2 linked regions of the Homo sapiens genome follow. The protein of the gene in region 1 purifies or fractionates together with the protein of each later gene. This does not show direct contact. Each region holds a gene or a part of one and is shown in the gene's direction. Other genes may lie near its edges.

Region 1 (3,821 bases):
CATCACAAACTGAAGACAGACCTTCCTATACCAAGACTGCCCCTCACGTCCACTATCCCATCCTTTCTCATATTCTTCATTTTTCACAAACCACTCTGTTTGGATAAGCTTCTAATGTATGTCTTAATTGCCGTTCTTTAAAACACACACACACACACACACACACACACACACACACACACACACACAGAGAGAGAGAGAGAGAGAGGATAAAACACATAAAAACACTGCACTGACTTAGGATACTTTCGGCTATGATGTCAACACTGCCCCTTAGCCATCACTTGGACTCCATTCATGCTTCTGGATACTGTTGATTTTTAGTGCACTGAAATTCCAGCCACCTTTATTGCAAAGATGGTACTCCGTGCTTAGTGTCTGAGTATCAGTTGAAAATATTCAGAAAAAAATACATATAAAATATTTTGGGTTGAGTGGCAAGTTATCATTGGTGTTAAAGGTCAGAATCAAGAATCTAATGTTCTTGTTAAATTCTTCTTGTCTGTATCCCCAAAGGACATGTAATTGTCATAAGTCCCCAGTTGAAGGAGGAAAAGAAAATCTCATTTTTCATTATTGTTCCTACTGGAATGTTAAAATCATAACAAACATTGTAACGATATGAAAGATATAAAATTCCATCATATTATGAAGGCAGAGCCAGCCAAAATTAGTTTTACTAAATGAAGATCTGAATAAACTTACATGTCTGGGAAGGTAGACTCAGCAAGCTTCCAAACTTCATATACTCAGAGGTACTTCTTACCATTCAAACATATCTAAGAAAATTAGTCAAAAATTTTGTAATGGTATTTTTAAAAAATTGTGTTTACTCTTGGTGAATGAACTTCATAGATAAAAAGAAACTCTAGAAAAATCTTCCTTTTAAAAGTTTACATTCACATTTGTGTCCCTTCTTTTCATAAAGGAGTCACTATTACTTAATAGCATAGACAGAGGCCCAAGAGTCATTTCCTAAATAATTGCTTGAGTTCCAAAATTAGAGGGGATTTCTTATATTTTAATATTTTTGTTCAAACTTTCCTATGTAAAACTTAAGAACCTTAAATTTGGAAACTTTGCATACACTGAATATTTATGAAGTATTAGAATCATCTCAGGATCAAACGATATTTAAGCTGCACTTCTTTACTCAATGTTGCTGTTTTATTTTGTGTGTCTGATTTCTTAGTAGGACTGTTTCTAATGTAACTGAAGATTCTGGAGGATTGAGAGTGGTTGGCAATACCTTCACCAATTTAAGCAAATATTTTCTCCTCCCTCCCTCCTTTCTTCCTCCTTCCTTCCTCCTTCCCTCCCTGCCTTTCCTCCTTTCTTCTTCTCTTCTCTTTTTCCTTCCCTCCTTCCTTCCTTCTTCCCTCCTTCCTTTCCTTTCCTGCCTTCCCCTTTCCTTTCCCTTCCTCTCCTTTGCTTTTTACTTTTTCTCCTTCCTTCCTTCCTCCCTCCCTTCCTCCCATCTTTCTTTGCTTGTCTTGCTTTGCTTGTCTTGCTTTGCTTTTTCTTTTTTCTTTTCTTTCTTTCTCTTCCTTCCTTTTTTCGTTTTTCTTTCTTCTTTCTTTCTCTTTTTCTCTTTTTCCCTCTTTCCCTCCCTCCCTCTCTTTCTTTTCTTTCTTTCTCTCTCTCTCTCTCTCTTTCTTTCTTTCTTTCTTCCTTCCTTCCTTCCTTCCTTCCTTCCTTCCTTCCTTCCTTCCTTTCCTTTCCTTTCTTTTTCTTTCTTTCTTTCGTAACAGAACATTTATTATTGTTTTTTGTTTCATTTTCTCCAATATATTAAGCAGATAAAAGCAGGAATGGTTTTGATGAAGTGGACAAGAGTCTCAAGTGCTGACCACTAGGACTGAATTGCACGTCAAAATGAATCTGAGTCATAGTCATGGAATTCTTGTTTACATTTTAAGCCACTGATAAGATTTACCTAAAGTAAATATAAAGTGATTGAAGATAAGTGTTCTATGCAGTATTTTTTCTTTCCTTTGGGGAAAACAAAATTTAACACAAAAGTTAGAATGCTTTCATGCTACTTGAGTTTGTTTTAAAAGGCAGCATTTCACCGGACTAAAATGAAGATTTGAAATTTTCCCTATTAGTAATATTCTCACATGTATGATCTTGTATATCCTGGCTCCTTTTGTCTTCATGGTTTTTGGTCTGCTTTCTTTTACAGCATAGGTGGAGAAGTAGGGCGAGGCCACGAAGGAAGTTACGTGGGCAAACATTTCCGCATGGGATTCATGACAATGCCTGCTCCTCAGGACAGACTTCCCCATCCTTGCTCCAGTGGCTTTTCTGTGAGATCACAGTCCCTGCACTCGGTTGGGGGCACAGACGATGACAGCAGCTGTGGCTCACGGAGACAACCACCACCCAAACCCAAGAGGGACCCCAGCACCAAGCTGAGCACCTCATCAGAGACAGTCAGCAGCACTGCAGCCAGTAAGAGCGGGAAAACCCCTGAGAGGACTGAAGGTAAAACACGCCATGTCCATGTCACCTAGAAATCTCTTTCAGATAGTATGTTCAGGTCAGCATGCCCAGGGGCAAGTGCCTTCTTCACTGGGCCACATAATCCTGCCTCTCACCCTGAAGTCCCAGAAAAGAAGAATTGAGGGGAAGGTTATTTATTGATGTGTTGTCAAATTTCCAGAAGAATGTATTTCTGATAGTTCAGAAAGGGTAGGCAATATATGAGTTTTTTAATCCTTTAAAGCTTCAAATTATTCAAAAATTATTCTGCCCAGAAATATATCTAAAAGTTATATTTTCTTATACTATTTATACAATTAAAGGTATTATTATTTGATTATCAAGGGGACATTTTAATTCAGGAAAATATCAAGAAAAAGCTTATAATCATTTTTAATGTTTTGGTGAATTTCCTTCCAATGAATATGAATTTATGTATTTATGTGTGTATGTGTGTGCATACTATAATCTTAAACTCTCCTTAATATCTCCAATTTTTACCTTTATCTGCCTGTGTTTTTTCTCAGCTATGAAACATACAAGTCAAATATATCCCAGCCTCCTTGCTGGTCTATGAATATAAATTAGGTCATATTAACACTAGATCTCACCAGCTCTTTAGGCCTTACTGAATTTAGTAGAGTCTCAGCTTCCCTGAGTTACTCCTGAGAATTCCATGGTGGGAAAGTAGCCTTAAGTGTGCCTTGACACAAGCTATCTTGGTCATTTGGGGCTGCTATAACAAAACACCATAGCCTGGGTGGCATATAAGCAACAGCAATTTATTTCTCACAGTTCTGGAGGCTGGAAGCCTGAGAGCTCTGTTGGGGCCCACTTCCTGGTTGCAGACTGCCGACTTCTCCTTGTATCCTCAAAGGGCAGAAAGGCCTCCCTGGCCTCTTCGTAGGAGGATGCTAATCCTATTCCTGAAAGCACTGCTCTCCTTCCCTTTCTACCTCCACATACAATCATTATGGGATTAAGTTTTCAACATTCTAATTTGGGGAGCACAAACATTCAGCTCATTGCACAGGCACATTGAGATCTTTACATAGCAAATGTGGAAAACACTTCAAGGTTCCCAATGCTGCCAGTGACCAGTTTGAGAGAGGCGTTCCACCAGGTCCCATAGCTTCTCTTCTGCCCCACTCTCCTTTCTCCACAGCAAGCTTCTCTGAGCTCTAGGGTACCAAGTATATTTGCCGCAGAGAGCCACATGGTCCTTTCTTCAACTAGGCAGTGTTCATTGTGACATGGGCTCCCTAGTCCCTCATGAAAGCCCCTTGGCCTTCTGGCCTAATCTTTCCACAGATTCTCATAGGCAGTCCATGAGATCA
Region 2 (3,821 bases), on another chromosome or scaffold:
GATCATTCTTCAACTACATCATCCAGGTCCTGGTGTCATATTACTGGTATTAAAATACATAGGGATTAGGTGCAAGCTACTCTAAGTATACTGGAATCTCTGGCTACATGGGTCAGGCCTCTTGTAAAGGGGCAGAAAGATTCTCTATCAGATTTAAATCCAGCATGAATCTTCACAGTATTATTATGTCGATAACTTGTGTCTCTCCCGGGTTCCTTTCAGCCTTTAGAATTTATTTACTCTGGTAGCTACTACTGGCCTAATTTAGTAGTACCTAATGTTCTGGTGTCCTTATCTACTCATAGTTGTCCCCTTAAAACAGGAAGGAGAAAGCCAGGAGCGAAGATGGTGTTTATGTCATTTCTTTCTAGAGAAATTACAAACCCATAGCAACCATTCTCTACTTAAACCTCACATCAGTTCTATAAATAGGTGTGATGAGTACCATCAGTCTATTTGCCAGAGTAACAAAGCCACTTACCTTGGTTCAACCAAGAGAATGTGACAAGCCATGATTTAGGTTACAAGTTGGCAGAAAGACTTGAATATTTTATCTGCCATTTCTTTCTTTCTAGCAGGCTGGTTGTCATATGTGACTTGAGGATACTGGACATTTCCTTTGATATCTTTGATGCTGTCTCAAGGTGTTATTTTGATATTTGAAACCCTTGCAATGTTGTTCATGTAAGATTTGTTTATCACTTTACAAGTGCATAAAGTTCCTTACTTCCTTGAAATGAAGTCTTCCCTCTAGGGAGCCAGCTACTCCTGAGTTTGTTCTCAGGAGCAGCTCTGGGTGTGCAGTTGACTGGCTCCATTTCATCACATCATCATCTTGGCTTTGATTTTTTGATGACAATTTTTTTGGCAACCCTGTTCCAGAAAGCACCATTAAAAGGACTTCCAGATCTAGTCATGCTGGCCACGCAGTATGCACACAAGACAGGATTGTAAATCTTTGAGAAATCCTTGGGCTGTTAGTGCTCATCCTTTGGTTTCCCTTAATTTTTCAACCTTAAAGTTGTTTAGCTGTGACACTGATAAGATATTACCTCCCTCCTTCCTTTGCAGAACTGGAGAACCAGGAGTCTCGGGTCTCTGAAATCCACAGCCTTGTTCATCGGCTCCCAGAGAAAAATCGGCAGATGTTACAGCTGCTCATGAACCACTTGGCAAAGTAGGTTTAAGACCAATTACTAGCCTTTTTCTTACCCCTGAAAGTTCTTATCTTAGCAGTGAAGCTGGTCTCAGTTCTGCTTTTGTTTCTCTCTCCCACTATTGCATCAGGTATGCTGGAGGCTTAGGAAAGAAATGTGTGAAATGTTCATTGCAGTGGAGAACAGCAGCAAATGCCAGATGGCCTTCCCAGAGGATGCTGGGGAAGTGCTCATGCAACCAGGCCACCAAGCAGAGTTTTCAGGGGGATTTTACCTATGGTGATCAAGGGCAAATTGGAGTGTGTTGTCCATGATACCAGGTCACCACACAGAATTTTGTGGGATTATATGTTCTTATGCTCATCAAGAACAAACAAAAATATGTTGTGGGTTTACAGAATTTGGGTTTTTAGTAAAGAGGACTGGATTCTAGAGCTGACTCTGTTATTAACCTGCTGCTTAACCAGCCCTGAACAAACTGCTGAACTTTCTATTCCTTAGTTTCCCCATCTGTCTAATATGGATAATAGACTCCCCTTTTTCTACAAGGATCATTGATTTTTGAAGTTACATGCATTAAAGCCTTTGAAGAAGTATAAAGAATAAAGGAATTATTTTTGGCAAATACTCACTTGTCCTCTGAGATAATCAAAGCATTCAGTAGGGACCTGATTTTCTTGGAATGGTTTTGAATATTTGTGTATTTACTGTTCCTTGACCCTTTCACAAATGGCATTGCTGACTTCCCGTGCTGCATTCATCACTACTTGTGTGTGTGTTCTAACCTTCCGTTGACTTTGATGGTATGTTCTTGATTGCAGACTGGAGCACAAGAAAAGAATGAGAGCATAACAGTTAACCTAAATTATTAAACCCTACATTCTATTGAACTGATGTGTTATAAATTTGGCCCTTATAGTCCATACTTTGCTATGCCATTAGGGTATTTCTTGGGGATAAGTTGATATTCTTCTGAGGGAGATTGTAATGGTTAGTTTTCATCTTTCTGTCAAGCACTTGATATTGCCTTTGGGAAAAAGAGTGATATATATCATGAAGATTTCCACCATTTCCTCATTTCCATCAAGAAGCCAAGAGTGTCTTGTGTGTTATTGGGAAGGAATTCGGCAAAGCCACAGTTGCTCCATTATTGACCAACTTTTTTTCTTGGCTTTCCATATCAGAGCTGCTTGTTCAGGAGTACTTAGGAAGAATAGCAGATAACATGCAAGTTTACAGGAGAATGCCCTAAAGGTGTCAAAGAATCCCGATGAAGCATGTTTAAAATAATGGGAACTGGGCTTTAAAAAGTAACTCCAGATGCTCTGAGATGACAGTTGAGTACCAGTTCCACACAACCTAGAGTCAGGCGTTTGTTAAGCAGAGAAGCTGGTTTAGATCTTAGTTGCAAAACTTTGCACACTTGAAGGACAAACACCAAGACATAGAAGGTTCCAGGTGCACCCTCCAGCCTAGCATGTGTGGGGATGCTCATGACTGCTTCATGGCCATCGGGTCTGAAAGAGGCCTTCAGGCCTGCAGAGAGCAGCTGGAGAAGGGTTAGGAACCATCTGAAAGCCATGGGCCTTTTCAAGCTGTGCAGTTGGAAGGAGAGCTTAACTGAACTGAGAGAGACCAAAAGTGAAGGGTGACCCAGCAGAGCCAGTGTTGCGTTTTTCCTACTTTTAAATTTCCTTTAGGATTGTTAGGATTCTTTAAAGAAGAAGAAAAAAGGATTTAAAAAACAAAACCAAACCCTTAAGGTAGATCTTGAACAGTTGAACTTGTTCATCTCCTGGTTGGATGACTCACTTTCTCCTCCTTTTCCCACCCTTTCCCCCTCCAGTCCCATTACATTCAGTCCATCCTTGTTACTAACCTAAGAGTTGTAAACTGGAATTTGCAAATCACAGTTGTGACCTTGACACATTTTTGTTTTTTTGGCCTTCTAACCAATTTAAGGCAATTTTATTTTTGGAGTTGTTTACTTCATAGCATTTCTTGATCATTGTCTTATCTGTGAAACTTGAGAATGATTTTCTGTGGTTTTATGGCATGTTTTGATCATTTAATTATCAAGAAATCTACCTGTAGACAAGCTCTCATGCTGTAATGTGAGTTGGTTAGAGCTAGTATTAGACTATAGCGGACTCAAATTCTTAGCGTGCTGTGTTCTTGTCTCTCGAGCCTCTATATTTAAAATGTCCCTGTGGAGAAGGATATGAATGAGCAGTGTTGAATCCAGTAAAGAGTATTTATTTAGGTCTGAAAAAATTCTTTGGCATCCAGAGGAGTTCTAAGATTCCACTTAAACTTTATATTCTCATTTACAGCACTGTCCTTATTTTAAAATCAAGCAGTAAGGGAAAGTTAACTTGGGACAAGAGGTTTGTCTGATTCCAGTTTTCTCAGGTTTAGACTTACCCTAGGCTATGCCTGAGCTATTGTTCCTCTGGGCTACTTACTTAATGGTCAGCTTCCTTCCTAAGTTTTGGTTTCAGGGCTGATTCTGCTGGAAAACTGGTGTTTACTTCTCTTATTACTTACTGTTTGCCTTGTGCATCTCAGAATTCTGGTTCAAAGGCAAGCATTTTGTATTGTATATTTTTTAAAGTACTCTTTTGAAACATTTTCCAAAACTGATTTCCCTTAGCCACAGAGGGA

Evidence for each region.
Region 2: the proteins of NYAP2 (region 1) and ARHGAP26 purify together in Homo sapiens (affinity purification with western blotting, with the first as the bait; one study listed by BioGRID). This does not show direct contact.

Annotation. Positions count from the first base shown.
Region 1 is NC_000002.12:225,511,186-225,515,006, forward strand, and holds part of NYAP2 (neuronal tyrosine-phosphorylated phosphoinositide-3-kinase adapter 2), read left to right. Parts: intron 1-2,185; coding exon 2,186-2,487; intron 2,488-3,821.
Region 2 is NC_000005.10:143,056,571-143,060,391, forward strand, and holds part of ARHGAP26 (rho GTPase-activating protein 26), read left to right. Parts: intron 1-481; exon of another isoform or gene 482-1,071; coding exon 1,072-1,177; exon of another isoform or gene 1,178-1,179; intron 1,180-1,251; coding exon of another isoform or gene 1,252-1,471; exon of another isoform or gene 1,472-1,784; intron 1,785-3,821. UniProt on the Homo sapiens protein: GTPase-activating protein for RHOA and CDC42. Facilitates mitochondrial quality control by promoting Parkin-mediated recruitment of autophagosomes to damaged mitochondria.